Linked DNA regions of Homo sapiens. The protein of the gene in region 1 interacts with the protein of each later gene in a biochemical or structural test. Each region holds a gene or a part of one and is shown on either strand. Other genes may lie near its edges.

Region 1 (16,962 bases):
ATCCAGCCTGCATGCTTGTAATTTTAAAGATGCATAACATTCTATCCTGTGGCAATAACATATTCTGTTTAGCCATTCAACTATAATCGGACATTTATGTTGCTTACATTTTTCACTCTTAAAATGTTATTATGAACTTCTAGTGCATATAGTATTTTTCTCCCTAGTATTTTCAATGATGTTTCTAGGATGATTTTCTAGCAGTAGGAAAATTGAGTCAAAAGTGATGACTCTTTTATGGTTCTTGAAAGTGACAGTAAAACTGCTTTCCAGCAGGTTTGTGCCAATTTACAATGAAGCCAGTGAAACATGTGAGTACCAATTTCACCATACTCTCCCCAGCATTTGATATTACTTTTTATTTTGCTAACTTAAAAAGGGTTCTTATTTTAATATATATTTTCCTATACCTATTTTCCTTGATTATTTCTTCTGCTGGGAAATGCCATTTCATATCCCTTCTGCAATTTACCTTTGCGGGTTGTCTCAATATTCTTCTTCTTCTTTTTCGTGGGCTGTATATTAACCCTTTCTCATATGCACTGTATTTATCCAATCTGTTTGTTTTACATTCCTGGTTATACTGTCATCTAAAACAATTTAGCCCTTTTATATAGTTCAGATCTTATCAAGTCAATTTCTCCTATTACATGTATTCTTATAAGATCCTTTCCTTATCTTATCTCCACAACTTTATTTTATTTATTTGAGATAAGGTCTTGCTCTGTTGCCCTGGAGGCTGGAGTGCAGTGGTGCAATCATAGCTCATTGCAGCCTCAAACTCCTGAGCTTAAGTGATCCTCCTGCCTCAGCGTCCTGAGTAGCTGGGACTACAGGTGTGCACCACCACACTCAGCTAGTTGATTTCTTTTAATTTTTGGTAGAGTTGGGGGTCTCACTATGTTGCCTATGCTTCCATGACTTAAATAAGAATTTAATTCTGCTTTAGCTCTCTGATTTTCATTTCTGTATCTAGCTATTTAATCCATTCATTTTGATGTATGATCTTTACATCAAATTGATCTCTGCCCTAAATGCTACCTAGTTAACCAAGACTAAATGTATTTGAAGAAACCCTTGCGTAACACAAGACAGTAGACTATGCCTATATAAAGAGTTCGTGTGTGCTGGGACATGGTTTCAGGCTCCCTGGGGAGAGACAGGGAAGCAGCAGCCCCAAAGGACTTAAAATGTGATGTGGTTCAGTGAGAAAAGTGGGCATGACCAGAATAAAGTGTAGGAGTGCACGGGAATGTTCCCGAGGTGTTTCTACCTTGCCTTTTCTGTGCATAAAAAACACTGGGGAATGAAATCACTTCTGAAAATGATAACCCCTTGACCCAGATGTTTTCCTAGCTCGTTAGAGCCCTTTTAGTGCTTCAGGAATGAGAGCTTTCAGCTGACCTAGTGCAATACATATACTGAGCACCTGTTGAGTGTATGTAGCGTGCTATGCTAGGCACCTTGTGTGGGTACCTTGTGGGATGCAAAATAGTCCTGGGGCAACCACCAGTTAAGCTGAGTGATGAAATAACGGAGAGGAAAAGATTAATCCGGGCAGATAACCCAGCGTAGCGCTGGCTCTGCTGCGCAGCCTTGCTGCTGTGGAGTGTGGCGCTGCAACTCTAAAGGGCTGCGTCCACCCTCCGTCTTCCTCCCCGCCTCTCAGTTGGCCGAAGCTTCTGATCACACAGACAAGAATCTCCGCTCGCTTTCCCGCTGGCCTCCAGGCAGCCAAGTTCACTCAAGCTCTCTCAAAGCTTTTGCAAGAGTGGGTCTTAAATCCTGGCGGGGGGCACGTGCACTCATTTAAGACTTAAAAAGGAATCGGAAATGACTGTCCCCATGCCCACTGCTGCCCACAAACCTGAAGACCCAAGCGACCACACTTGGTAGGCACTTCTGCCCTTCTGGTCTGGTTCCCACCCGCCCATCCCGAATCGCGGTTATCTTTCCCGGTGCTCACAGCATGCAGACCACAGCCTGTGGCCGCTAGTGTTTCCTTCGCTAGGACCACGGGTAATTGTCTTGGCTTCGCATCTTTTGACTGGCAGGCAGGTGGACAGGGACTTGCCCTACCTCAACCCGGTCCCCAGCTTGGCACGAGCAGATAAATCTTGAAAAAGAAAAATGATCTGGGCCGTTTAACCGTGGCATGGCGGGTCCAGATCCCCAAACCTGTCACTAGTGACGTCCCACGTGGCAGATTCGCTCTCAGGGAAGCCCGTCACCGTTTTTGTCCGGGACATCCTCCCCATGCCCACCCTCCGCTCCGGGAATTCACCCTCGGGGCCGCCCCGCCTCGTTCCCTCCCACAGCCCGGCGGACCCGAGACGGGAAGGGCAGGCACTCCCTGCAGAGTCCCTGGGGCGCCCGTGGCTCGGGGTGCGCGGTGGGACTCGGTGAAGCCGGCGTCTTCACCCCAGAGCCGCGGCTTCGGGGCCGCTGGAGGAGCGAGAGTGGCGCCCGGATGACTGATCGCCGCGGAGAAAGTCCCCCGGGACTGTGACCCCCGCGCCGGGGGGCGGACGCAGGGCGTGGCTGAGGCGCAGGAAGATGCCGCGATGGGACCGGGAAAAAACACCGACCCCAAAACACCCACTGTGTTTCTCAACCTGAGTTCCCCGGCAGCCGCCGAAGGACCCCAAAGGCTGCATGGCGCCCCCCTGGTCCCCACCCCCCCGGGCGTCGCCTCGCGTGGGTGGGCTTCGCGTTCCCTCCGGGGTTTCAGAGCCACCACGTGACTTCCACGAAGCGCGGGGCGCCGGCGGAAAGCCGCGGCAGGGGTGGGATTTGGGACCCCGAGGTGCGGAGAGAGGGCGGGCAGAGGAGGAAACGAGGCGGGGGTGGGAGAAGGAGGGCGGGGCAGACGTGGGACGGGAAGGACGGCTGCCGGGACTGGCGCGCGGGGACACTGGGCCGACGCGTGGAGTAGCGGGGAGAGCGGGAAGCCTGAGGGGGCGGGGCCGGCGCGAGGCCGTGGGTGCGGCACGAGGATGCCGGCGGCGGGACAGCGCCCGTAGGCAGCCCCACGGGCAGGGCGCGCGGGCGGGGCGGGGCGGGCCGGGCCAGAGGAGCGCCCGGCATGTCGCAAGGGCTCCCGGCCGCCGGCAGCGTCCTGCAGAGGAGCGTCGCGGCGCCCGGGAACCAGCCGCAGCCGCAGCCGCAGCAGCAGGTAGAGGGCGAGAGGCTCAGGGAGGGCCGTGGGGTGCGGGGACCGGCGCGCCGCGGGGGGCGAGGAGGTGGGTGCTGGAGTTCCGTGGTGGTGACTGCGGAGGTGCAGAGGTGGCGGGTGCGGCCGGAGACAAGCAGAGGTAGGGGCGTAGGGATGTTGGGGAATGGGGGCGATCCAGGGACCCTGTCGTGCGCACAGTGTCCGCGGCTCCTGGAATGGCTCCTGAGCCAGCTCCTGCGCCCTCTGGGGGAAGAAGCCCGAGGGCGCCGACGCCTGGCTGGGCCGGGCATGGCCGGTGCTCCCCGGCACGTGGGCTCCGCACTGCCCTGAGGGCCGCCCCATCCTGGCGCAGCCAGCGACTGCCACCCCACCACCCGCGCCTGTAGCCCCTCCAGGATTCCCCCGGGTGGGGGGGGTGCTGCCGCGGGAATGGAGAACGCCGGACTAGTCAGCCTGGGCGGAGGGAACCCACAAAGGGCCGACTCCGCCCCCAGCTGGTGGAAACCCTTTGCCCCTTCCCAGTTCGCTGTCCCCTAGCAACGTTTACAGCGGCGCAGTCAGGAAGGAGACCAGGTTGGCCACAGGGACGGCCGTCTGGAAACTTTGCCTGGGTCTTGGCCACCTGCCTTACGACGAAGACTGGGTCTTTTCATCCTTACTCCCCACCTTCCCAATTCAGCGCCCGGCCCATGTCATCAGGTGTCGCTGGAGTGTCACAGAGATCTGAGTTTGGGCCTGGGCTTTGCCACACACAGGCTGAGCAGCCTTGAGCAATTTGTTTAACCTCTCGGACCGTCCATTTCCCCATCTGTAAAATGAATATAGTAACATCAACCTCTCAGGATTTTTGAGACTGAATCAGATATGGTTAATAACATAATACTATCTCTAACTTTCGCTCACCTCTTTCTGTCTTGATTAAATGTTTCTGCTGGGTTGGCAGGTGTGATCATGGTGATGAGTCCAGTTTAGAGTCAGCTCCCCGAGGGCAGTATGCAGGCTGCTTTCTTGTGCTAGTGACTTTTTGATTACAGAGAGCAAAGAGGCATGAGAAGCACTATGCAGAATACATTTTTTTTTAAAGTAGCAACTTCAACAAAGGCAGGTAACTTCTTGAGGGCATACTGTATGCTGGGAGCTTTAGGACAAAATCTCATTTCATCGCATCCCAATCCTAAGCATTAGGCTGTTAGCACCAAGTCTGCAGAGTTCACTGACCCTTTGTTTAGGGCTTGTATCCCCAGTGTCTAGAACAGTGTCTGGCACATGGTAGGTGCTCAGTTAATACATATTGAAAGAATGAATGAATTATGCTTACAATAAATGAGAAAACTGAAAATTTAGAGAATTTAAACCATTTACACAAGACCATGTTGACACTAAGAGACAAAACTAGGATCTGTGTGATTCTAAAGCTAAAGAGCTGTCTTCTAACCACATGTTCCCCTGTAATGTTCTGGTTTTGTTTATCAAGACTTCTTTGCCTCTCTAGAAGACTGTATTATCATACTTTGTTCCCTTAAGCTTCTATTTGCTATGTATGTTATTTATTCCTCTCCTTTTTATGCCTTTATATTCTTGCATATCTGAAACTTCTTACCTGCAGTAACTTGGGAAGATGTGTGTCTTATGTGGAATACAAGATGAGATCAAATGATAACTGAAAATATCCTTTTTTGTGTTATTAATATTTGCATTCCGTGAATATTAATAACTGAGTAGTTTTCCTTGTTTGTACCTCTTGGCTCTTAAACTCTGTAAGTGTGGTATTTTTCCCGCTTGGTGGTGTCTTCTCATGGGGTTCTAGAAAGCAAATACTGCTCTCCTTTTTCATGTTTTCTATAGCTGATTGAAGTGTTTTTACCATGGTCAGTGCATTTTTCCGCCTGCCTGTTTCATGATCACTATTGAGGGATTTGACTGAATTTGGTTAAATCTTACATATAGCTAACAGCTTTCAAGACACATAAAAAATTTGCTGACTTCTGAAACAAAATGTCAGCCAAGCATTGTTCAAATGAGTACACTGTCAGTGGGGTTTAAGATCATTTGGTGTGTTGGTAGAGTTATGTGGCTGCAATTAGTTGTAAGTGTAATCATGATTTGCATGCAGTATCAAAAGTACCTTTCATGTGTGGTGGTATAAGGACTGGCAAACAGCAAGTTCCAGATAGCAGATCTCTCCACCGCCCCCCACCCCCACCCAGCTTTCCAGTCTCAGATGGACGACATTGACACCACAGCTCTTCCAGGCACACGCCCTGTGGGCTAGAGGTTTATGAACGTTGATTTGGAGACCAACAGACCTGAGTTCCACTTCCCACTCACCCACTTAGTGGCTGTAATACCTGGAGCAAGGTCCTTAACCTCTCTGAGTTTCTTATTCCTCATCTTTTAAACGGCGGTCACACCACACACTTCACACACTCACATGGTGAGTGCTCCTGGGCAAGGGGCTGTTGTGAGCCCATTGGTATAGCAACTAGTGGTGCTGTCTACTGCAAAGCAAATGATGAAGCTCAGTGAACAACGCTGAGTGATGAGACAGGGCAGAAAAGGGTAAGGCGAGGGGCCACGACATCACACCCACCCAGTGTTTTTCCCCAGAGCCCTGAGGATGATGACAGGAAGGTCCGAAGGAGAGAAAAAAACCGAGTTGCTGCTCAGAGAAGTCGGAAGAAGCAGACCCAGAAGGCTGACAAGCTCCATGAGGTGAGACCGTGGTAGGGGCAAGCCACCTTAGAGCCACACAGCCTCTGCCTTGCACGGGAGTGGGGGTGATGACTGTTCTCTTTATCACGATTTCAGCAACACTCATATCTAATTTCTGCCAGGTCCTTCCAGCCCAGTGTTCTCACTGTTTGCTCACGGACGTGTTCATTTCTCCCTCATCCACTGAGTGCTTCTCATGGTCAAGTTTATTTCATTATAAAACAAAACAGAGCCTCTTCTGGACCCTGATTCCCTTTCAAGTTCTTGCTCCATTTCTTTTCTTCCCTCACGTCCTTACTTCCTGTTTTGTTTTGTTTCCCTCCAAAGTAATCCGCTAACATCTTTGCTTCTTAAAAAAGAGTAGTTACACCTGTTGTCTCTGTGTCCCTGGTTCCTGGTTATTCCCCAATCCTCTGTGATTTAATTTCTGCTACCCCCTTTCCACTCAACACACATATATATACACACAAACAAACACACACATTCACACATGTACCCAATGTGTGTGTGTACACACACACACACACACACACACACCCTACAGAAACTGCTCCCATTGCAGCCATCAGTGCCCTGGCACTGCCCTATCCAGGACTCTCTTTCTGGTCTCATCATCCTTTACCTTGTTAGAACATTCGACACTTTGGACCCATCTCTTCTTAAAGCTTTCCCCTCTTTTGCTTCTAAAAGACCACATTTCCTAGTTTTCCTAACCCTCTTCGCCGATTTTTTTCTCTATTTCTTTGTTAGCCTTCGACCCTTTATTGGCTTAAATGTTGGTGGTGACCAGTGTTTCAAACTCTGCCCTTTTTTTTTTTTCTCACCCTGGAAGACTTAATCTATTAATCTGTTCTCCCAGCATCAGCTCCCAACATTGATTACTCCAGGCAGGCCCTCTGTCCTGGACCCTAGACCCCATAGCTTCAGTGTCTGCTGAGCTGTTTCTCCATGGGTCCACTGCAGGCTCCTGTGATGTACCACATCCATAAAAGAGTGTTATTGTCCGTTTACCCTGAGACTTTCTCTTCTCATTGTCTTCAAACTGCAGTTAATGGAGCGAACCATCTTTCTCATCACTCAAATCAGAAGCCTAGGATTTATCCTAAGCCATTCCTTTTCCCTCCGCCCTCATGCATACACCTGCATAATCCTGCAGTTGGGACGTGGAGCTGCTCCATACCAGGAACTGGCCTTGAAAGCATCCAAGGATCTATCTGAGGAATGGGCCACCATTCCATGTTCTTGTCTTTGTCGGGGTTGGTGTGTGTAATTAAAGATTTTAGTTTAGCTCTCTCCTGCTATACTTTCTTGTCTTTTTGAGACGGGATCTTGCTCTGTTGCCCAGGCTGGAGTGTGATGGCATGATCATGGCTCGCTGCAGCCTCCACCTCCCAGGCTCAAGCAATCTTCCCACCTCATCCCCTCAGCCCTTATTTTTGTAGGTTTTTTTTTTTTTTTTTTTTTTTTTTTGAGACAGAGTCTCTGTTTGCCCAGGCTGGAGTGCAGTGGCATGATCTCAGCTCACTGCAACCTCTGCCTCCTGGGTTCTAGCGATTCTCCTGCCTTAGCCTCCCGAGTAGCTGGAACTACAGGCGCCCGCCACTACACCCACCTAATTTTTCGTATTTTTAGTAGAGATGGGGTTTCACCATGTTGGCCAGGCTGGTCTCGAACTCCTCACCTCGTGATTCACCCGCCTCGGCCTCCCAAGTGTTGGGATTACAGGTGTGAGCCACTGCGCCTGGCCATTTTTGTAGTTTTGTAGAGGTGGGGTTTTGCCACGTTGCCCAGAGTAGTTTCAATCTCCTGGACTCAAGCGATCCACCTGCCTTGGCCCTGCAAAGTGTTGGAATTACAGGCATGAGGCATTGTGCCAGGTCTCCTGCCATGCTCGTCTCAGCAAGGCCATTCTGGGGCATTGGCAACATGGAAACTCTGAGGTGTGTTGGGGAGAGGAGAGGAAAAGGGCAATCTTAAAACTCTAACAATGAACAGAGAACAAATTTAGAATGTACATACTCCACAGAGAGGTGACCTTCCGATATAAATTCACAGTGTGGCATAAATCATAAATGTCAGATTCTTTCCTAGAAGTAAGAAGGCTGGGCCCTAGAAAGAGACTGAGGTCTCTAGACTAGTGTCACAGAAGGTGCCTCCTAGCCTTTGTTCTGAAGAATTTCCACAGAAGAACGGCAATGCCCTTTGCCTCCTTTCTTTCTTCCCCCTTGCTCCTGAAGCAATTGTGGTTCTAGTGTCATGTTACCAAAATAGCCCCCAGAGGGGACCTGTGGCTCCCAGTTAGTGCATGGCCCTGTATTCAGACCACATGTGCTGCTGGATGGCCAAGGCATTACTCCTGAAGAAGCTCCTAGTCCCAGCCAGGTACATTAATATTTTTAAAAACTAGTTTTAAAAACATCAGTTGTAAATCTGGACTGAATACGTATCTGGAGGACAATATCTTGGACAAGATCTTTCATGGAGCACAGTCGAGTAGATCCATTTCACAAATACCAAGGCATTGCCATTGGGTCACAAAGAGAGGAGGAAGATCTCATGCCTTGCCTGTCGGTGGGAAGCCTAGAATTTCCCAAGGAAAGGATGTTAATTTCCTACTGCTGCTGAAACAAACTCTCACACATTTGGTGGCTTAAAACAACACAAATTTACTATCTTCCAGCTTTGGCAGTCACACATCAGAAGTGGGTCATATTGGGTCAAAATGAAGATGGCAGCAGGGCTGCCTTCCTTCTGGAGGTTCTGGAGAAGATTCGTTTTCTTGCTTTTCCCAGCTTCCAGAGGCTTCAGTGTTCCTGGGCTTGTAGTCTCCTTGAGCCAGCAATGGCCGGTTGCGTTTTTCTCAGGCTGCGTTACTCTGGTGCTGTTTCCGTTGTCACATCTTCTCTGACTCCCCGACACCCTCTTTCACTTACAAGGACCCTTATGATTGCGTTGGGTCTGCCTGGATAATCCAGGATAGTCTCCCCATCTCACGCTTCTTAATCACATCCGCATAGTCCCTTTTGCTATGTAAGGTGACATAGTCGCAGGTTCAAGAGATTAGAATGTAAACTTCTGTGAGGAGTGAATCGATTATGCTGCCTAGCACAGAAGGTAAATGTAAATACTCACGGAATTTTACTACAATATCAAAAAAGTACCTGTATGAAGCGTTGGCTCTCTCGCACTTTCTGTCACTGCTGCATTTGATAACTGAGTGAACCAGGTGCCTGGGAACTTCAGAGTGGTGCCACCTTTACCCCTATCTGACCTCTCTTGGAACTGTGGGGTGGAGACCTCTTCTGTAGGGTCCCTGGCCTGCTCTCCAACCCAGAGACTGTGTTGCATGACAGTCATGCCAGCTGCCCTTTTCAGAAATGGGGTGGGTTGATCTGAAGCCCAGACACTCCACGGAAGAGCACCCCCTTCTCCTCTCTCTCTGTGGGGCTGAAGGAATGGGTCAGGATTACTCTCCACTGGCAGATCACCTCAGCAAGACCAGCTTTATTGAGAATCACAGGGTCAAAGAGGCCAGGACAGCGGCTCCACCTGTATACAGACCCCAGAGCTGTAGCCCTCACCTTAGCCTCACTAGCTCCACACAAGTGTCGTTGGTCACAAGCGGGTGAGGAAGCAGACGACTGGCTTAGGAAAATGGAAGTATATCCCAAACCTTCTGCAGAACCAAAGGAACATCATCTCTGAACCAAATCATTACTCACCACGTGAGTAATCCCTTCCCTGTTCCTTCCAGGAGGGCATTGTAGCTGTGTGTATCATTGGATGACTAAATCTACTATTGGAGGCAAGGTATCTGGTTTAAAAATGGTGTAAAGAACCCTTTTGTCAAGCTCCAGTGAGTTGAGCACAGAGCGCCTTGCACACTACTGCGGGCCATGACAGAAAGCCCCTTGGGACCCCTGGACCTCCCAGGCCAATCTAGGGTGGGGACACCATGCATAGGAACCTCCTCCTCAAATCTGGAGTGAGGCCAGCTCATTGGGAGACACCAGAGGGCCCAGAAAACAGCCACTGACAGCCACTGCCTGCTGCTCCCTGGAGACTGTAGCGCATCAAAGGGCTTTCTTCATGTGTTCCTCTATCCCACACTGCAGGGATTGCATTCCTGAATATCTCAAAGTAACTCAAGCTCTTTACTTGCATTTCTTGCATATCCTGAGGGGGGATATTTGGAGCAAACTTGTTTAAAGTTTCCACTTTTTGGTCAGGCACAGTGGCTCGTGCCTGTAATCCCAGCACTTTGGGAGGCTGAGGCGGGTGGATCACTTGAGGCCAGGAGTTCAAGACCAGCCTGGCCAACATGGCGAAACCCCATCTCCACTAAAAATACAAAAATTAGCCAGGTGTGGTGGCGTGCGCCTGTAGTTCCAACTACTCGGGAGGCTGAGGCAGGAGAATTGCTTGAACCTGGGAGGTGGAGGTTGCAGTGAGCCGAGATCACGCCACTGCACTCCAGCCTGGGCAACAAGAGTTTCCACTTTTCTCTCCTCACCTCACTCACATACTCTACCTATACTTGAGCCTCTGGTTTTTTTGGGTTTTTTTTGCTCTTTCGTCTTCCTGGGTTTTTAAAAAAATATGGAACACTTTATGAATTTGCATATTATCCTTGCTCAGGGGCCATGTTAATCCCTGTATCATTCCAATTTTAATGTATGTGCTGCTGAAGTGAGTACTTGAGCCTCTGTTGCCTCCAACACCCTGAGAAACTTGCCCCAGCTGCAGCTCTTAGGAGTTTTTCGGCCACCTCCCTCCCCTCCTTGTTCTCCATCTCCAAAGTCCTAGGAGTGTCCGTCAAGGCGAGCCCTCTGTGGAGGGGAGAATGGGGGAAGAGGCTGCACAGGCCAAGCCAGAGAGGCAGGGGCTGGGGTTCCCCTTCACGCAGAGTTTTCTGGGCAGTGGTTGCTGGCAGTTGGACTACGGTGATGAGAAGCAGTTCTTAACGTGTGTCTGTAGACCTCAGAGTCCACTGTGGGCTTTCAAATCATCCCTTCAACCCGCTCACACCTCCCGTGGGGATTTCGACCTGCATTCATCTCTGAACACTAGGCGTGTGCCAAAGTCCACACTGACAAATGAGAACCAAAGTGAACAGTCAGGGTCTCGTCTCATCTCACCCAGGCTGAAAGGTGGCTCAGAAGTGGGTCAGACTGGCTCGACCAGGCACCCCAAAGGTGTAAGACTGAGAAAGAATTTTGAGTCACAAAAGGAAAGCAGCAGTGCCATCCTCAGGAGCCCCAAATGTCACAAACTGACAAATGACTTGGGCAATGTGATTGTGGTATGTGTTGCCATGGTTTTTTCAGATATTGCATGTTCTGAGAGCTTCATGGCAGCACCCATGTGGCTTAGAAACTGATTGTGGCACTCATTTGTACAGCCCTTGCTGGTAACACAATTTTTCTGCTGGGAAGTGCATCAGTGAAGGCTTGGGAGTAGACTTATTCTGAAGTCCTGAGATCTTATGGCCTCTTACTTCTGGTAACCATCATGGGGAAATCTGGACCCAGGCACTGCTAACTAAAAGCAGAATTGTTGATGCTACAAGAGAGTTGCAGTTGACCTTGAAGTTAGGAGTCAGATCCCAGGTCTATGTGACCTTGGAAAAGTCACTGTACCTCTCAGAGCTTCAGTTTTCTAACTTGTGAAATGGGGTCTGTGTGTGGCTATGGCCTCCTGTTAGCCTGTTCCTACTTCTTTCTTTCTCACCTTAGTTGTCATATCTGGTCCCTGGTACCCACTTCTTTACCAGTCCTTGATCCTGTCTTCAGCCTCAGAGGCATCCTGGACCCTGCGTATCCCTAGGCAGCCCGTTGATCCCAGTCACCTGCTCCTAGATGCCCAGAACAGGGTTTCTCAGCCTCAACACTGTTTATGCATGGGGCAGCATAATTCCTTGTTGTTGGGGGCCTGTCTTGTGTGCTGCTGGATGTTGAGCAGCATCCCTGGCCTCTAGCCACATGATGTAGTAGCACCCCCGACCAGCTGCGATAACCCAAACTGTCTCCATACACTGCCAGTGTCCCCTGCAGACTGCCACAATTGCCCTACTTGAGATCCACTGCCTTAGGCAGCTTAATTTCTGAGGCAGAGCTGGGATCCACAGTGATTTCACCACCTCTAATTTTTAGGTGTCTGCTTTGAAACTGTCCCGACAAATACCCAGAGAGGGAGCACAGCAACCTCAAACCCTCCCATGGCAAAGGATTTGGAACTTGGCAGAATTCGAGCTAGAGGGGTCATATTTTTGGAAATAATGAAGGGTTTAATGTTCTTTGCTTGCTTTTTGTTTGCGTTTACTCCAGGAATTTCTTCTGGGTGTGAGGTGGGTTTCATTTCTTCCCCCTTTGCTGCTATTCAGTGTTCTCTGGCCTCTTCTTTCTTCCCTCCCAGCTCCTCTTGTTATTTTCAAAGGGCTCGTCTCACCTAAAGATTTTGACTTCTTCTCTTCTTGTTATTCCCTCAGCTCAATAAAAGTCCCTCAGCGGGTTTATGAGTAATGCTTAAATCCTAGAAGAGAAAGTCCTTATGGAGAAGGCAGATGAGGGGCCCGTGGGGCACCTGTCGGGCGGCTCTGAAGACTCTAAGCATGGGTTGGGGGAGGGCAGTGGACCTCAGGGAAGCCTCAGGCCACAGGGCTGCGCACGGCTTCCAGAGACAAAACTGGGAAGCTCAGAGCGTCTTGCTGCGGAATTCAGTATATGTAGAAAGGCAGCTTGGAATATTCTACCAAAGGAAGAGGGCTTCTTGTCCTTTGGAATCTACTTAAAATGTTAGCACATTGGAACTATTCAAATGTACTCTCCATTTTACTTGAAAGTCAAGGGCATTTCCTGCTGCAGGGTGGAGTGTGTGTGTGTGAGTGTGTATGTGAATGTGAATGTGGGGAGTCTGCATGTGAGTCTGAGTTTTTGTGAGTGTGTGTGACTGTGTGAGGTGTATGTATGTGTGTATGACTGTATGTGTGTGACTGTGAGAGTGTTTGTGTGACTGTGTGTTGATTGTGTATGTGTGTGAGAGTGTCTGTGGCTGGGTATGAGAGTGTGTTTGCAGATGTGTGTGTGACTGTGTGTATCTGTGTGTGTGTCTGTGGTTGTGTATGAGTGTGTGTGTGTGAGAGTGTGTGTGTCGGGCTGTGTATGAGAGTGTGTGAGTGTGTTTGCGGACGTGTGTGAGTGTGTGTATATGTGTATGTGTGTAAGAGTGTGTGAATGTGTATGAGAGTGTGTGAGTGTGTGTTTGCAGACGTGTGTGTGTGCTGCAGCTTTTCTCATCCCTCTGCTGCCTGCATGATTCCCTTGACGCCCTGGCTTCCATCCCATCCTCCCATCCAGACTCTCCCCTTGCCCACGGAGAGCTTATGGCTGGATTTGTAGACAGAATTCTCACTCCAGAACTAGAGCTTGTCAGAGGTCAAAGGAGGGCATGAAGGCTTGGGAGTGGGAGGCAGGGAGGAGGATAGAGGCAGAATGGGGCCAGTGTACTGGTGAAGCCACATGGCCCCAGAACAGCTTGCTGCCCTGGAGAGTGCTCCAGACCACCCTGGGAACCTGCCTGGGGAATGGCTCAGATAGACCCTACAGGCAGCCCCGCCAGACCCCTTGGTTCTTAAAGGGAGGAAGATGCTGAGAGTCCCTTCTGAAAGGAAAGGATGGGGTTAAAGAAGAAACAGAGGATGAGGGCTGAGGAATCACTGAGCATGTAGGTGCTGGTGCTGTGGCGCATCAGGCAGGGGGTAGAGGAGAGGAGTAGCAGAAGTTCCTAGGTCCTTTACATTTCTGATCTTTGGGGGGAGACATTACTTCATATGAGTGAAATTGAATATGATACAAAATAGAATAGAACACATAATAAAAGATGTGGTTCCTGTAGGTGCTGTGGTCAGGGAAGCCTTCCTGGAGGTGGTGGGCTTGAGCTGGACCCATGCAGAAAAGGAGGAAGGCAGTCCAGTTGAGGATAACTGCAAGAGCAAAGGGGCAGGGTTGAGAATTTGCATGTGTCTTTGGGGGCTATAAGATCACATTTCTTTAGTGATACTCCCTTAAAATTACTAGTCAGAGAGAAAGTGTGATGAGTAACGCAATTGGGCCCTGAGCTTGGGAAATGCATGGTGTGCATGGTACAACAAAGCCTTACTATAAACTAGAAATGAACGAAAACATTTCAGCAAGATTTAAATGAGATTGCCAGCCTAGAGAGGGTCTCTATTGGCATGCCGTAGAGCTCTGCCATTGGCTATTTTTTGTAGAACTTATTAATGACTTGGATGAAGAAAAGGAAGACCTGTGTGTTAAGTTAGTGGATGGCTTAAAGCTGTGTGCTGTCACCATTCATGAGACGATGCAATTGAGATTCCAAAAGATTTTGCAATTTTGCTGGTCTGGAAGATGTCCAAATAAGGAATGAAATTCAGTGGAGATGGATGTAAAATCCTACCCTTAAGCCCCATAGCATCCATCATCATCCAAGGACGGACGGAGAAGCAGCACATGCAGATAAAGCTTGCATTTCTCTGCAGGCTCAGAGAGAATCCTCAGCGGCTTGGGCCCAGCACAGGAGAGGTCACTGCCACACATTTGCCCTTGGCATGGTCTCCAGAACCATGCATTGCATCCTGGGAGCAACATTTTCTGAGATATTCTGGTAAATTGGAGTGTGTGTTGGTGAGGGTCCCCAGAATGGCAAAGAAGAGCCTGATGCAAGGAACTCAGAGGACCTGAGATGCTGTATCCTAACATTTCAAGAACTGCGATATTGAAAAAAGCATTGGATCTACTAGATGTGGTTCTATTAAATGGAACCAAACCCAACAGGTACATTTGAAAGTGAGAGTGTTTGGATCAGTACAAAGAAGAGCTTTTTCTTTTTTTTTTTCTTTTCTCTCTTTCTCTTTCTCTCTCCTTCCTTCCTTCCTTCCTTCCTTCCTTCCTTCCTTCCTTCCTTTCTTTCTTTCTTTCTTTCTTTCTTTCTTTTTTTTTCTTTCTCTCTTTCTTCTTCCTCTTTTTGTTTTTTTGAGTTGGGATCTTTCTCTGTTACCCAGGCTGGAGTGCAGTGCTGTAATCATGGCTTATTGCAGCCTCGAAATCCTGGGCTCAAGCAATCCTCCTGGCAGAGCCTCTTGAGTACCTGAGACTATAGGTGTGCATCACCACACCTGGCTAGTTAAAACAAATTTTTTTAGAGATGGGGTCCCACTGTGTTGCCCAGGCTGGTCTCAAACTCCTGGCCTTAAGTGATCCTCCCACCTTGACCTCCCAAAGTGCTGAGATTACAGGCATGAGTCACCATGCCCAACAAAGAGGATTTGTCTAGTAGAGCAGCCCAGAAATGACAGTCTGTCCATTGAGGGCAGGAGTGCCCAGAACAAGTTGGATATGGATGGTTTCTACATTGTGTGGATTGGGCTAAGGGACCTCTCTGATACCCTGCAGTTCTACGCCTCTGTAAACCCTGATGGAGAGGAAACTGAACAGGTGAGTGCTGGAGCAAAGCCAAGGCAAGGGATGTTTTCATTCATTTGTTAGTGCAATCAACAAACATTTGTTATGTTCCAGGTACTGTTCTAGGTGCTGGGGATATAGCTGTGAACCCAATAGAGATCTTCGGAAAGCACATCAGCATTTGGGGGGACTAACTGCACAGGGGCATGGGGAACTTTTTGGAGTGATTGAAATGTTCCGTGTATTGATCAACACAGGTGTATACATTTGTCAAAACTCACTGGATCATACTTAAAATAGATACATTTTATTTTACGTAAGTTATACCTCAATAAATTGTTTCTCCCAGTGGGAGGGGGGAGACACTCATCAAATAGACAAATATCTGAATATCTGAGCAGTGGAGGGGACATGCGTAATGAGACAGCTTTCATGGGCAAGAGGTGAACAGCGCGGCACAGGAGGACGGAGGAAGGGAACGCTGCACCAGAAATGATTTTGCCCATTCTGTCTCCCCCAGGAATATGAGAGCCTGGAGCAAGAAAACACCATGCTGCGGAGAGAGATCGGGAAGCTGACAGAGGAGCTGAAGCACCTGACAGAGGCACTGAAGGAGCACGAGAAGATGTGCCCGCTGCTGCTCTGCCCTATGAACTTTGTGCCAGTGCCTCCCCGGCCGGACCCTGTGGCCGGCTGCTTGCCCCGATGAAGCCGGGGACACTCCTCTGCCCAGCAAGGAGCCTTGGTCATTTTCATACCTGGGAGGAAGGCTTTTCCTTCACAATTGTATACAGGGGGCACCTGTGGCCAGGCCTCCTCCTGGGAGCTCCAGGACCAGCCAGCTGTGTTCCCTGCAGACTGGGCTCAGCCCGACATCCAACAGGCGCCAAACTCACAGAGCCCTTGTGCAGATCCAGCATGGAGGCCACCCTCAGGAGTGACTTCTCATCCACCCTGGCAGCTAGTAGGTTCTGCTGTTATGCAGAGCCATTTCCTCTAGAATTTGGATAATAAAGATGCTTATTGTCTCTCCCTTCTCCAGTTCTGGGAATTTACAGGCACAATACACTTCCTTTTCCTGGAGAGGTCGTCTTCTGTCTTCTCTGGGTGTTCTGTGGCTCATGGGTCTTGCCTCCCTGCCTGGCCACTCTCCCACAGCCACATCCACAGCAGACAGGGGAGGTGGCTTTAGGGGGCTGTGGTGGAGCATAAGCCAATGGGACTTCCTTGCCACTTCTAGGCCTTCAGAAGTCTTTGACCCAGCTGGGTCACAAAGTTGCATGCTGGGTGTGACCCGTGTGTTTGTCATGCTCTGCACAGCCTTCCATCTTGGCCAACTCTCACACTCATGCTGGACTGGCGTGGGAGATTTTCTATTCCAGGTTGGTTTTCTCAACTGCACTGTCCACTCTGAGGCCACCTTCTTGTTCTATAAGTAGGTGTAGGATAGGGGAGAAACTTTGTATTAGTCTGAGTCACAATTGAGTGGAGAAATTTGTCTCCTTATTTAAACAAATATTCGGGTAGATGAGAAGAGGAGCAATTTCTTTTCAAAAAGCCCTGTCTGCCCGACTCTCGTCTTTTGGGAAAAACAGAACCAAGCCAGGAAGAAGC
Region 2 (11,798 bases), on another chromosome or scaffold:
GGAAGCTATGGAAGCTCTGCGCCCTTTTCCCATGCTGTGCCCTACACATCTCTTCATCTGTATCCTTTGTAACATCCTTTATAATAAACCAGTAAATGAAAGTAAGTGTCTCCCTGAGTTCTGTAAGCTGCTCTAGCAAATTAAACCCAAGGAGGGGGCGAGGTGCAGTGGCTCATGCCTGTAATCCCAACACTCTGGGAGGCAGAGGTGGGAGGATCAGTTGAGCCCAGGAGTTTGAGTCCAGCCTGGGCAACATAGTGAGACCCCGTCTACACAAAAAAAATTAAAAAATTAGCCAAGGGTAGTGGCACACACCTGTAGTCCCAACTACTCAGGAGGCTGAGGTAGAAGGATCGCTTGAGCCCAGGAGTTTGAGGCTGTGGTAAGCCAAGATCGCACCACTGCACTCCAGCCTGGGCAACAGAGCAAGACCCTGTCTTTTTTTTTTTTTTTTTTTTTTTTGAGACGAAGTCTAGCTCTGTCGCCCAGGCTGGAGTGCAGTGGCTTGATCTTGGCTCACTGCAACCTCCGCCTCCCAGGTTCAAGCGATTCTTCTGCCTCAGCCTCCTGAGTAGCTGGGACTATAGGCGCATGCCACCATGCCCGGCTAATTTTTTGTATTTTTAGTAGAGACAGGGTTTCACCATGTTGATCAGACTGGTCTTGAACTCCTGACCTCGTGATCCGCCCACCTCAGCCTCCCAAAGTGCTGGGATTACAGGCGTGAGCCACCACGTCTGGCCCTGTCTCTTTTTTGTTTTTTTCAAAAGAAAAGAAAAAAATCCTGAGTTTGTTTTCTTCCCCCATATCTTCAGAGACACTTGCTCTGCTAACACCTTGATTTCAGACTTCTACCCTCCAGAACAATGAGAGAATAAATTTATGTTGTTTTAAGCCACCCAACTTGTGGTACTTTGTTACAACAGCCAAAATACAAAAGTGGGGTGCTGCTGGAATAAATGGTTAAATGTAACAGTGGCTTTGAAATTGGATCAGGGCTGGAATAATTTTTTTTTTTTTTTTTTTTTTTTTTTTTCAGATAGGGTCTTGCTGTCTCCCAGGCTGGAGTGCAGTGGCCCAATCTCAGCTCACTGCAGCCTCAATCTCCTAGGCACAAGCGATCCTCACACCTCAGCCTCCTGGGTAGCTGGAACTATAGGCCTGCGCCAGCATGCTGGGCTAATTTTTGTATTTTTTGTAGAGGCAGGGTTTCACTATGTTGCCCGGGCTGGTCTTGAACTCCTGAGCTCAAGCAATCTGTCCATGTTGGCCTCTCAAAGTGTTAGGATTACAGATGTGAGGCACTGTGCCTGGCCAAAGCTGCAAGAATTTTGAGGTGTATGTTAGGAAAAACCTAGACTGCCTTGAAGAGACTGCTGGTAGAAATATGGACATTAAAGGGAATGTCCCTGCAGGCTCACAAAGAGGAGAGGTGCAGAGAAATCTCCTATCATCTTAACAGGATGCATATATTGTTATGAACAGAAGGCTGCTAGAAATATGAATATTAAAGGTGTTTCTGGTGAGGTCTCTGGAGGAAATGAGGAATGTGTTATTGGTAACTGGAATAAAAGTTTCCAATAAAGGTGGCGCAATCATGGCTCACTACAACCTTGATCTCCCAGGCTCAAGCAATCCTCCTGCCTCAGCCGCCTGGGGAGCTAGGATTACAGGTGCTGGGGTTACAGGTGTGAGCCACTGCACCTGGCCCAATTTCTCACTTTTGAAATGGGAATGTCTATCCTATGTCTGTCCCATCACTGTATTTTAGAAGCAAATAACTTATTTTCTAGATTTCACGGGTCCGCAGAGAGAGAGAGAGAGGAATTTTGTCCCAGAATGGACCATACCAAGTCTCATCCAAAACTGATTTAATGATTTAGAAAATAAGATTGGGACTTCTTGAGTTGATTATATTTAAATGAGATTTTGGGCTTAAGAGTTGATGCTGGGATGGGTTAAGACTTGTAGGGATATTGGAATGGGATGTATATATTTTGCAGATGGGAAGGCCATGAATTTGGTGGGGGCTAGAGAACAGTGTGTTAAGGGTTGAACTGTATTCCCCTGAAAAGGCACTTTGTGGTCCTAACCCCTAGTAAATGTGAATGTAACCTTATTTAAAGTAGGGACTTTGCAGATATAATCAAGTTGAGATGAGGTTGTGCTTGGTTAGAGTGGGGCTAGCCCAACATGACCTATGTCTTTCCAAGAAGAGAGACGAACACAGACAGAGACACATGGAGAACACCGTGTGATCACAGAGGGAGAGACTGGAGTGACACAGCTGCAAGCCAAGGAACTCTGGCCACCAGCAGAAGCTAGAAAGAGGTAAGGAAGGTTTCCACTCAGATTCTCAGACGGAACCAGGCCCTGCCAACACCTTCAATTCAGACTTCTAGGCTCCAGAAGTGTACAGGAATAGGTTTCTATTGTTTTAAGCCACCCAATTTGTGTATTTCGTTAACAGTAGACTTAAGAAATGAATGCAGCAGGCCAGGCGCGGTGGCTCACACCTGTAATCCCAACACTTTGGGAGGCCAAGGTGGGTGGCTCACTTGAGGTCAGGAGTTTGAGACCAGCCTGGCCAACATGGTGAAACCCTGTCTCTACTAAAAATGCAAAAATTAGCCCAGCACGTGCACCTGTAATCCCAGCTACACGGGAGGCTGAGGAAAGAGAATCACTTGAAACTCGGAAGGCAGAGGCTGCAGTGAGCCAAGATCATGCCAGACTTCAGCCTGGGCGACAGGGCGAGACTCTATCTCAAAAAAAAAAAAAAAAAAAAAATGACTGCACCAAGTTGCTTATTCCACCTCTCTAGAACTCAATCTTCTTATTGCCAAATGAGGATAACAACAGTGCTTTGTGGCCCACATCAGATTGTTGTGAAATTAAATAAGATCCTGAATGTGAGGAAATTATCCTCAGCACGGGGACTAGCACTTAGCCGTGTGGCCTTCATTGTTATTTTGATGGGTTTTATTGATTACCGTCTAAGGGTCCTTTCTGTTTTAATCAGAAGGAGTCAGGAGACCGAGGGAGCACCCAGACTAGGGCAGAGGGTACCAGTAGAAGCGGGGAGGGAAGTTGAACGATGGGTTTTCCCACTACCTAGGATGGCTGGGAACCCAAGAACATGGAGGGCAGTGTCTCCTGCAAGTCAAGATTAGGGGAATCCATCCTCCATTAACTGACAAGAGAGACAAGAGGCAGCAGAGGACAGGGTGAGGGGCGTGGAGAGCCATCTCTCCCACTCACTCGAGACAGTGAGACTTCCAGTGTCTGGTGTTTCTCCTTTCCCTGCACCCGGAGCTGGAGCTGTTGGGACGTCTCTGTGGCCTCTGGAGAACTTGTTAGTACCACACAGTCTGTGGGAGGCAGAATCAGGAAGCCAGGGCTAAGTGGGGGCTTGGAAGCAGGGCCCGTGCTGAACCTCTCCCCATATCCCCTTCCCCTGGCAAATGCCTCAAGGCCCCACCTCCCTGCCTTCCTCTCACCAATGATGTCAGCCACTCCGAGCTTTAGGGTCCTGGGAGTGGCAGTAGGTGATAGCTCTGTCTCTCCAAAAAGCAAAAGGATCCTGCTTGGGGACACCCCAAGGTGGGTGGCCATGTGGTCCACCACACTCTGCAGGGGCTCCGACTAGGGATGGGGACAACAAGCAAAAGAGGTCTTCCTGCCTTGAAATCCATGCCCCCAGCCACACCACCCAAACACAAGCTCTGGCCTTAGCTACTTGCTAAGCTCCTCAGCTGTGAGTTTCATCATATTTACCTGGCAAGGTATAGAATAAAATCGTGTCAGCAAGGGGTACAGGCGAGTAACACAAAGAAATATAGCAGCCATGGGTTAGAACAAAGAAAGGGGTGGTGGGGATTGCAGCAAACTGGAATTCACATGCCACCTAGACAGGCTGGCTGTTACGCAGCTCCAGCTGATTGGCACTGTGTGGGAACGTGGGCCAGTATGACATCTTCCTATATTTTTCTTTTTTTTTTTTTTGAGACGGAGTTTCGCTCTTGTTAACCAGGATGGAGTGTAGTGGCGCAATCTCAGCTCACTGCAACCTCCGCCTCCCAGGTTCAAGTGATTCTCCTACCAGGCTGGTCTTGAACTCTTGAATTCGGGTGATCCACCTGCCTCGGCCTCCCAAACTACAGGGATAACAGGTGTGAGCCACCGCACCTGGCCACATCTTCTTATTTTTTAAGAGAAGCCAGAAATCTGGACCTTTTTTTTTTCTTTCTATTTTTAGTAGAGGCGGGCTTCACCATATTGGCCAGGCTGGTCTTGAACTCCTGATCTCAGGTGAGATCTGAGGCAGAGTCTCGCTCTTTCATCCAGGCTGGAAGGCAGTGGCACCATGCCCAGCTAATTTTTGTATTTTTAGTAGAGATGGGGTTTCACCATGTTGGCTAGGCTGGTCTCGAACTCCTGACCTCAGGTGATCTGCCTGCCTTCACCTCCCAAAAGTGCTGGGATTACAGGCGTGAGGCACTGCACCCGGCCAGAAATCTGGACCTTTGTATGAAATCACCCATCACAAAGGTGACAACAAACTCGTATATTTTTAAAGCACTTGGTCAGGCATGATGGCTCACACCTATAATCCCAGCATTTTGAGAGGCCGAGGCGGGAGGTTTGCTTGAGGTCAGGAGTTCAAGATCAGCCTGAGCAACAAAGCAAGATCCCATCTCCATTTTTTTTTTTTTTTAAGAGACAAGGTCTTGCTCTCTCACCCAGGCTGCAGTGCAGTGGCATGATCACAGCTGACTGCAGCCCCCAACTCCTGGACTCAGAAGATCCTCTTGCATCAGCCTCCCAAGTCGCTGGGACTACAGGTATGTGCCACCATGCCTGGTTAATTTTTTTATTTTTAGTAGAGACAAGGTCTCACTATTTTGCCCAGGCTGGTCTCGAACTCCTGGCCTCAAGTGATCCTCTCACCTTGGCCTCCCAAAGTGCTGGGATTACAGGAATGAGCCACCATGCCTGGCCCCCATCTCTATGTTTAAAAAATAAAATAGGCCAGGCACGGTGGCTCATGCCTGTAATCCCAACACTTTGGGAAGCTGAGACAGGGGAACACTTGAGATCAGGAGTTCAAGACCAGCCTGGCCAATATGGTGAAGCCCTGCCTCCACTAAAAATACATAAATTAGTCGGGCATGGTGGCGGGCACCTGTAGTCCAAGCTACTCGGGAGGCTGAGGTGGGAGAATCGCCTGAACCTGGGAGGCGGAGGTTTCAGTGAGCAGAGATCGTGCCACTGCACTCCAGCCTAGGCGACAGAGTGAGACCCCGTCTCAAAAAATAAAAATAATAAAAAATAATAAAATAAAATAAAATAAGTCTACAAAGAAAGCAGACACACTGTTGGAAAAGCCATGGGCTGCCAGTTTGCAGCCTCTGCCTTAGTTGCTTGACTGATGCACTGTGCATCAGTAATGGTAATGTCTGTTATCATTCCTGGTGTTGAAACAGGGTCATCCCTACAAAAATATCAGGCTTCGCCAGGAAGCTGGTGGAGTTCAGGGTGACTGAGTGACATCTGCTGTGTCCAGGGCAGTGAGAGCAAGCCCAGGAGGGAAGCCCAGGTTCCTAGGGAGGAAGGCAAGAGAGACTACCAAAAAAAGCTTCTTAGAAGACAGGATGCTTCACACCTGGAATCCCAGCACTTTGGGAGGTCAATGAGGGACGATCACTTGAGCCCAGGAGTTCGGAACCAGCCTGGACACAGTAAGACCACTTTTTGAAGGAAAAAAAAAGACACAGGATGCTTATGAGGAGCCTTGAAGAATGGGTAGAAAGTTTGCCAGAAAGAGAGGGGAGCGTTGGGAAAATGCAGACAGAGGAAACAAAAAGTGTGAAGGCAGGACAGACTGAAAAGAATGATGGGCAGCTCTAGAGAGCAGGATGGGAAAAGGATGACAGTCCCTTCTGCCAGGACACCCCTGCTGGACACCACCATCTCTCCAGAAGCAGCTCCTGGGTCCTTCTCCCATGGGCCTCAGGCACTCACCATCCTGAGGGGCAATCTGACCAGGTCAGCCCGGCAACGGATTTTGAGTGGGAAGAGTCGGGGGGTCTCTGGGAGGGTGGGCCCTTCCACCAAGACCACTTCATCCTCTTGGCCCTGTTGCTCTTGACCCTGAGGTGGCTTGGGGCTCAGACAGGAACGGAGATCCTGGAGGCGCTTGTTCACCTCACTGCAGTGCAGACAGGACTCTGGGTCAACTGGAGTCAGCCACCCTCCCGGATTGCCCTCTTCCATCCCAGCCAGAGCCCCTGCACTTGGCACCTTAACTTCTTGAGTGCCCGAGTATGCGTTCTGCTTTTGGTCCTTGGTGAAGGTGGGGACAGAGGAGAGTTGTCCAGATCCCTGTAGAAGCAAGAGACAGCAGGACGGAGGCAATGGAGAGAGACTGGCCCCACAAATCCTAGAAATCAGATCCTTGGACAATCAAGCATAGTCGGACGCAATGGCTCACACCTGTAATCCCAGCACTTTTGGAGGCTGAGCCAGGAGGATCGCTCGAGCCCAGGAGTCCAAGACCAGGCTGGGCAAGATGGGGAGACCCTATTTCTACATAATTAGCCAGGCATAGTAGAACACAGCTGTAGTCCCAGCTACTCAGGAGGCTGAGGTGGGAGGGTCGCTTGAACCCAGGAATTTGAGGCTGCAGTAAGCTATGATCACGCCACTGCACTCCAGCCTGGGCAATGGAGTGAGGCCCTATCTCTAAAAATGTAAAAATACATTTAAAAAATAAAGAGGAAGCAGCTTCCAATAACCCCCATTTCACTGGAAGGCAGGGGTAGGGGAGAGGGAAAGCCTGAGGCATCATTTTTATATTTACATGACCTGAATATTAGGGAAGAAAATGCCTCATTTTTGAGACTGTCACTTCCCAGGAAAATGTCCAATAATATCCGACAGACGGCAAGCACTTACCATATGTCCAGTGTTGCCCAGGCTGGTCTTGAACTCCTGGGCTCAAGTGATTCACTCCCCTTGGCGTCCCAAAGTGCTGGGATTACAGGCAAGAGCCATTGTGCCTAGCCAAGTGTTAACTCTTGATTGACTCAGCAATTCATTGACACAAATGCCACTATTATCCCCAGGTTTGGGGGTATTTTTTGTCTGTCTGTTTGTTTGCTTTTTAGAGACAGGGTCTCACTCTGTCACCCAGGCTGGAGTATAGTGGCACGATCATGGCTCACTGCAGCCTCTAACTCCTGGGATCAAGCGATTTTCCCATCTCAGCCTCCCGAGCAGCTGGGATCACAGGCATGCGCCACCATGCCAGGCTAATTTTTTTTTATTTTTTGTAGAGACAGGGTCTCTCTATGTTTCCCAGGCTATAAAACGGGGTTTTATAGATGAAGAAAGAGAAGCACAGAGAGGACAGGGAAGCTGGATTGGAACCATACCTTAAGCTCACATTACTAGGGTCTCAGAATCCACTCCCAAGGGTGATCCTGAAGGGTTCACTGTCACCCTCCGGGGTAAGCCACCTCTTTTCCCCAAGCGATTCATTCCCCACATGAAACTCAACAGTCCTTCTATCCCTTCTTCTTAACCTTTCAGGAGTCACCCAAGAGTCCTGCCTGCCTCCGCTTACCCCTCCAACTCACTTCCTGCTCCCAGGGCCCAAGGGCCCTGGCCTCACTCACAGAAACTCTGTCTTTTTCTTCTCTTCTTTATCCTTAGTCCTCAGCTTTGTCTTCCAGGGAGAGCCTGGTGATGGGGAGCCCTCATGGTAGAGACCACTCGAATCTGCCAGCTCTGCCTCTGGGGGCAGAGGAAGAGAAGGTAGAAGGGGGTTATCCAAGGGAGGCCAGCGAAGGCCAAGAAGAAACAAGTCAGAGGCTTCAAGAAGGTCCTAGGAAAGGAGGAGACCACGGAGCCCCTGGCACACACAGGGCCACATGATAATATTGGGAAAGGGGGCAGGGGATGAGACTGCTATTTAGTATAAAGATAGCTCATATTAACTTAAAATTAACTTAAATTTCTCATGAAAGGAAACCAGGTATTATTTTCTATAATATAGAAATTTCTATTTGCCCGCTGTCAATAAAAGATCATCACAAACCACAAAAATAAATACTGTGAAAATTAAAAAATGATAAGAAACCCTAGATCAGTGGCTCTGAACCAGGGACAATTTTGCCTCTGCGGGGACATATAGCAATGTTTAGAGACAATATTGGTTATCAAAATGTGGAGGGCGAGGGGGCTGAGGTATAATACTTCCCAGGGATGGAAGTCAGGATGCCGCTAAACTTTCTACAATGCACAGGACAGTTTCCAACACCAAAGAATTTTCCAGTCCAAAAAATGCCAGTAATGCTGAAGTCATGAAATCCTGTCCTAACTAACTATGGCAGCTGCAAGAGGCCTATGATTCTGCATTTCGTTTTTCTTTTTTTTTTTTTGAGACCAGGTCCTACTGTGTCACCCAGGTTGGAGTGCAGTGGCATGATCATGGCTCACTGCAGCCTCGACTTCCTGGGCTCAGGTGTTTCTCCCACCTCAGCCTCCTGAGTAGCTAGGACTACAAGTACACATCACCATGCCTGGTTAATTTTTTATTTTTCTGTAGAAACAGGGTCTCATCATGTTGCGCAGGCTGGTCTCGAACTCCTGGGCTCAAGCAATCCTCCCATCTCAGCCTCCCAAAGTGCTGGGATTACAGCACTTTGAGCCATTGTGCCCAGCCGATCCTGCATTTCTAGCAAGCTTCCAACGGATGCCATATATGGCTGGGCCCACGTTTTGAGTATCAGGGATAGAGGTACCTTTTACGTAGCACTTCTGTGTCCTAGGTACTGTCCTAAAGCATATATCTAGCCAAGAGGCAGCTCTCTCTATATTCCCTTTCGTTAATTCTCACCAAAATCAGCACCAAAATGGGGTCTACTATTATCCCCACTTTGATAATGAGGAAATTGAAGCACTGAGAAATTAAGAAACTTGCCCAGGCTGGGCGTGGTGGCTCACGCCTGTAATCCCAGCACTTTGGGTGACCAAGGCAGACAGATCACCTAAGGTCAGGAGTTCGAGATCAGCCTGGCCAACATGATGAAACCCCATCTCTACTAAAAATACAAAAAAGCCAGACATGGTGGCGGGCGCCTGTAATCCCTGCTACTCGGGAGGCTGAGGCAGGAGAATGGCTTCAACCTGGGAGATGGAGGTTGCAGTGAGCTAAGATTGCGCCACTACACTCCACCCTGGGTGACAGAGTGAGACTCTGTCTCAAAACAAGAAAAAAGAAACTCGCCTAAGATCACACAGCTATTAAGAGATAGAGCTGAGGCCGGGCACAGTGGCTCACGCCTGTAATCCCAGCAATTTGGGAAGCTAAGATGGGCGGATCACCTGAGGTCAGGAGTTCAAGACCAGCCAGGCCAACATGGTGAAACCCCATCTCTATTAAAAATACAAAAAATTAGCCAGGCGTGGTGGGAATTAGTCAGCTACTGGGAAGGCTGAGGCAGGAGAATCGCTTGAACCCAGGAGGTGGAGGTTGCAGCGAGCCGAGATCGTGCCATTGCACTCCAGCTTGGGCAACAAAAGCGAAACTCTGTCTAAAAAAAAAAAAAAAAAAGAGAGAACTGAGATTCAAACCCAGGCCAGATGGCTCCTGTTTGCTTTTAATCACCCCACTGTACTCCCTCATGGTACAAGAGTCTTGGTCCAAGGTCTCCATTTGCCCACTGGATTATTTCCTTATTAGACTAGATTCCTATTCCCCGCCCTTGAGTTGTTTGCAAAAAATGCATCAGTGGGGGAGGACAAAGACAGGGCATCCCTGATAAGATTCAGAGAACACCCTGCTGGCTCCAGTGTTCCCAAAGAACTTGCTGCAGATGTAACAAGATGTCACAGATTCTCAACACCTTACCGCCTCCTGCCCCGCCCAGGACTACAGAATCAGCATCTCTTCAGGTGGCACCAGAAATGTATACATTAATACATTCTATGCTTGTTAACAATCCAGCTCCTGTGGCTGGGATGCAGGAGTCCCCTCTCCCACGCTCTTCCCTTGAGCCTCAGGAGACAACTGACTGCAGGAATATAAACCCCAGGAATTCTCTTAAGAGAAGCCAGCGGCTGCGTGCCTCTCCCTGGAGGCCCTCCCTTACCTTCCTCATCCCCTGGAGGGTAGAGTTTCAGGAGGGATAGATCATCTGGGATAAGGCGAAGGCTGCTTTTAACCTGCAAAGACAAAGAAGGGAGAGGGGTCAGGCCCAAGTCCTTCCCCTACCGAAAGAAAAAATTGGGGGTAATTCTTCCCTGACACCCAGCTCCCAAATCCTCCCTAAGATCGTGGACACCTTGGCCCTCTCCTGGCAACCTAGAAGTCCAGCTTCCCCAGGATTCAGAATGGAAGTACCCTTCACCCTTTCCTCCATCTGCCTAAGACACTCTGAAATGTATGCTTCCTTGCCCTTTTTAACTAGGTTACTAGCCGCCCCTCTACCCCTGACTCTTAGGGACTCTCAGCCCATTGCTCACACGACCATCGGGGGACCCCAGCCTCTGGAGCCGCCCAGTCCTCTCTGAACCCGCATGGACCCCAACCCCCAATACTGCAGCTCCCTGGCTTCATTTGCCATGGACCCCAACCTCAAAATCCAACGGCCCCAGGTCCTCCCAGTCCCTCTCCAAAATCTCAGGAATCCCAGCTCTTCAGCCTCCCTGTGCCCCCAAGACTCTAGCTCCTAGGAATCCTAAACTTCCAACGCATCCCACCCTCCTTCACCACCCCAGTCTGCAGAAAGTCCCGGAGCCCTGCCTCTCCCTGCCTCCAACACCCTAACGCCCGAGGACCAGCCCCAGAACGCCAGCCTCAACACCCCTATAGCCCTACCCTCCCCGAACGCCGGCCCCTCCCTGGAGGCCAAGCCCTTGGCCCTTCCGCCGGTCCCCTCCCCGGGACCGGGCGCACCTTCCCCGAGTACACCGGAACCAGCGGCGCCTCCCCCGGATCCAGCACCAGCCGCCGCCGCCGCCTGACCGGCTCCCGCGGGGGTCCTGCGGGCCGCCTGTCCTCCCCTTCGCTGTCACTGTTGCTGTTATCCCGGGACGCGACCGGCCCCGGGGGCTCCGGGGGCTCCACCTCAACCTCGTCCGCGGCACCGCGAGCGGTGGCGACCTCCAGAATTTCCTCATCGCTGTCGGTGACCAAGTCCACAGACACTACGTCCAGCGTGCCCCGGGATGGAGACCGCTGGGCCCGAGGACGCCGGCCCCGACCGCCCCAGCCGCCCCGACCCCCTCGGCCGGCACCGCTACCTCCGGACCAGCGGCCCCGCTTCCCCACAGGCTCCGCCATGGCACACTTTCCTCCACAACACACGCCCGCCTCCTCTCGCCTCGCCCCGCCCCCTTCAGCGACTTTCGCCTTGCATTGGACAAACAGCCTGCTCGTCAGCAACTCTTCGCGCCCCACGCGCGGGATCCGCCTTCCCGCCTTTTCATTGGTCTCTGTACCCGCTCATCATGCGCCCACCTCTGAAACCAAGGCGCCAAAGATTCCAATCACCTCGGCACAATCACCGTAGCTTTCGATTCAGTCGGCCTCACCCATTGGCTGGGCCACCTCTCCACAGACGAGCCTCTCCCGGACCCGCCCAACCAAGACAACCGTCTTCCGGCTTGGTTAGTCGCAGGGCATCCTGGGAAATGTAGTCCTCGAGCGGTAAGGTTTCCGGGAGAAGGAAGGCGGGCCTGGAATTCCCTGTGGAAACCGCGGATTTAACCAGGCGCGGTGCCTCACGCCC

Evidence for each region.
Region 2: the proteins of BATF3 (region 1) and NFATC2IP form a complex in vitro, tested with the Homo sapiens proteins (one study listed by BioGRID).

The regions. Positions count from the first base shown.
Region 1 is NC_000001.11:212,685,886-212,702,847, reverse strand, and holds BATF3 (basic leucine zipper transcriptional factor ATF-like 3), read left to right. Parts: upstream 1-3,007; 5' UTR 3,008-3,085; coding exon 3,086-3,175; intron 3,176-5,782; coding exon 5,783-5,887; intron 5,888-10,480; exon of another isoform or gene 10,481-10,584; intron 10,585-14,426; exon of another isoform or gene 14,427-14,721; intron 14,722-14,948; exon of another isoform or gene 14,949-14,978; intron 14,979-15,868; coding exon 15,869-16,057; 3' UTR 16,058-16,431; downstream 16,432-16,962. UniProt on the Homo sapiens protein: AP-1 family transcription factor that controls the differentiation of CD8(+) thymic conventional dendritic cells in the immune system.
Region 2 is NC_000016.10:28,950,564-28,962,361, reverse strand, and holds the start of NFATC2IP (NFATC2-interacting protein), read right to left. Parts: upstream 11,426-11,798; 5' UTR 11,351-11,425; coding exon 10,964-11,350; intron 10,231-10,963; coding exon 10,158-10,230; intron 9,461-10,157; exon of another isoform or gene 7,798-9,460; coding exon 7,680-7,797; exon of another isoform or gene 7,364-7,679; intron 6,385-7,363; coding exon 6,304-6,384; intron 6,212-6,303; coding exon 6,025-6,211; intron 3,780-6,024; exon of another isoform or gene 3,701-3,779; intron 3,646-3,700; coding exon 3,501-3,645; intron 3,372-3,500; coding exon 3,262-3,371; intron 1-3,261. UniProt on the Homo sapiens protein: In T-helper 2 (Th2) cells, regulates the magnitude of NFAT-driven transcription of a specific subset of cytokine genes, including IL3, IL4, IL5 and IL13, but not IL2.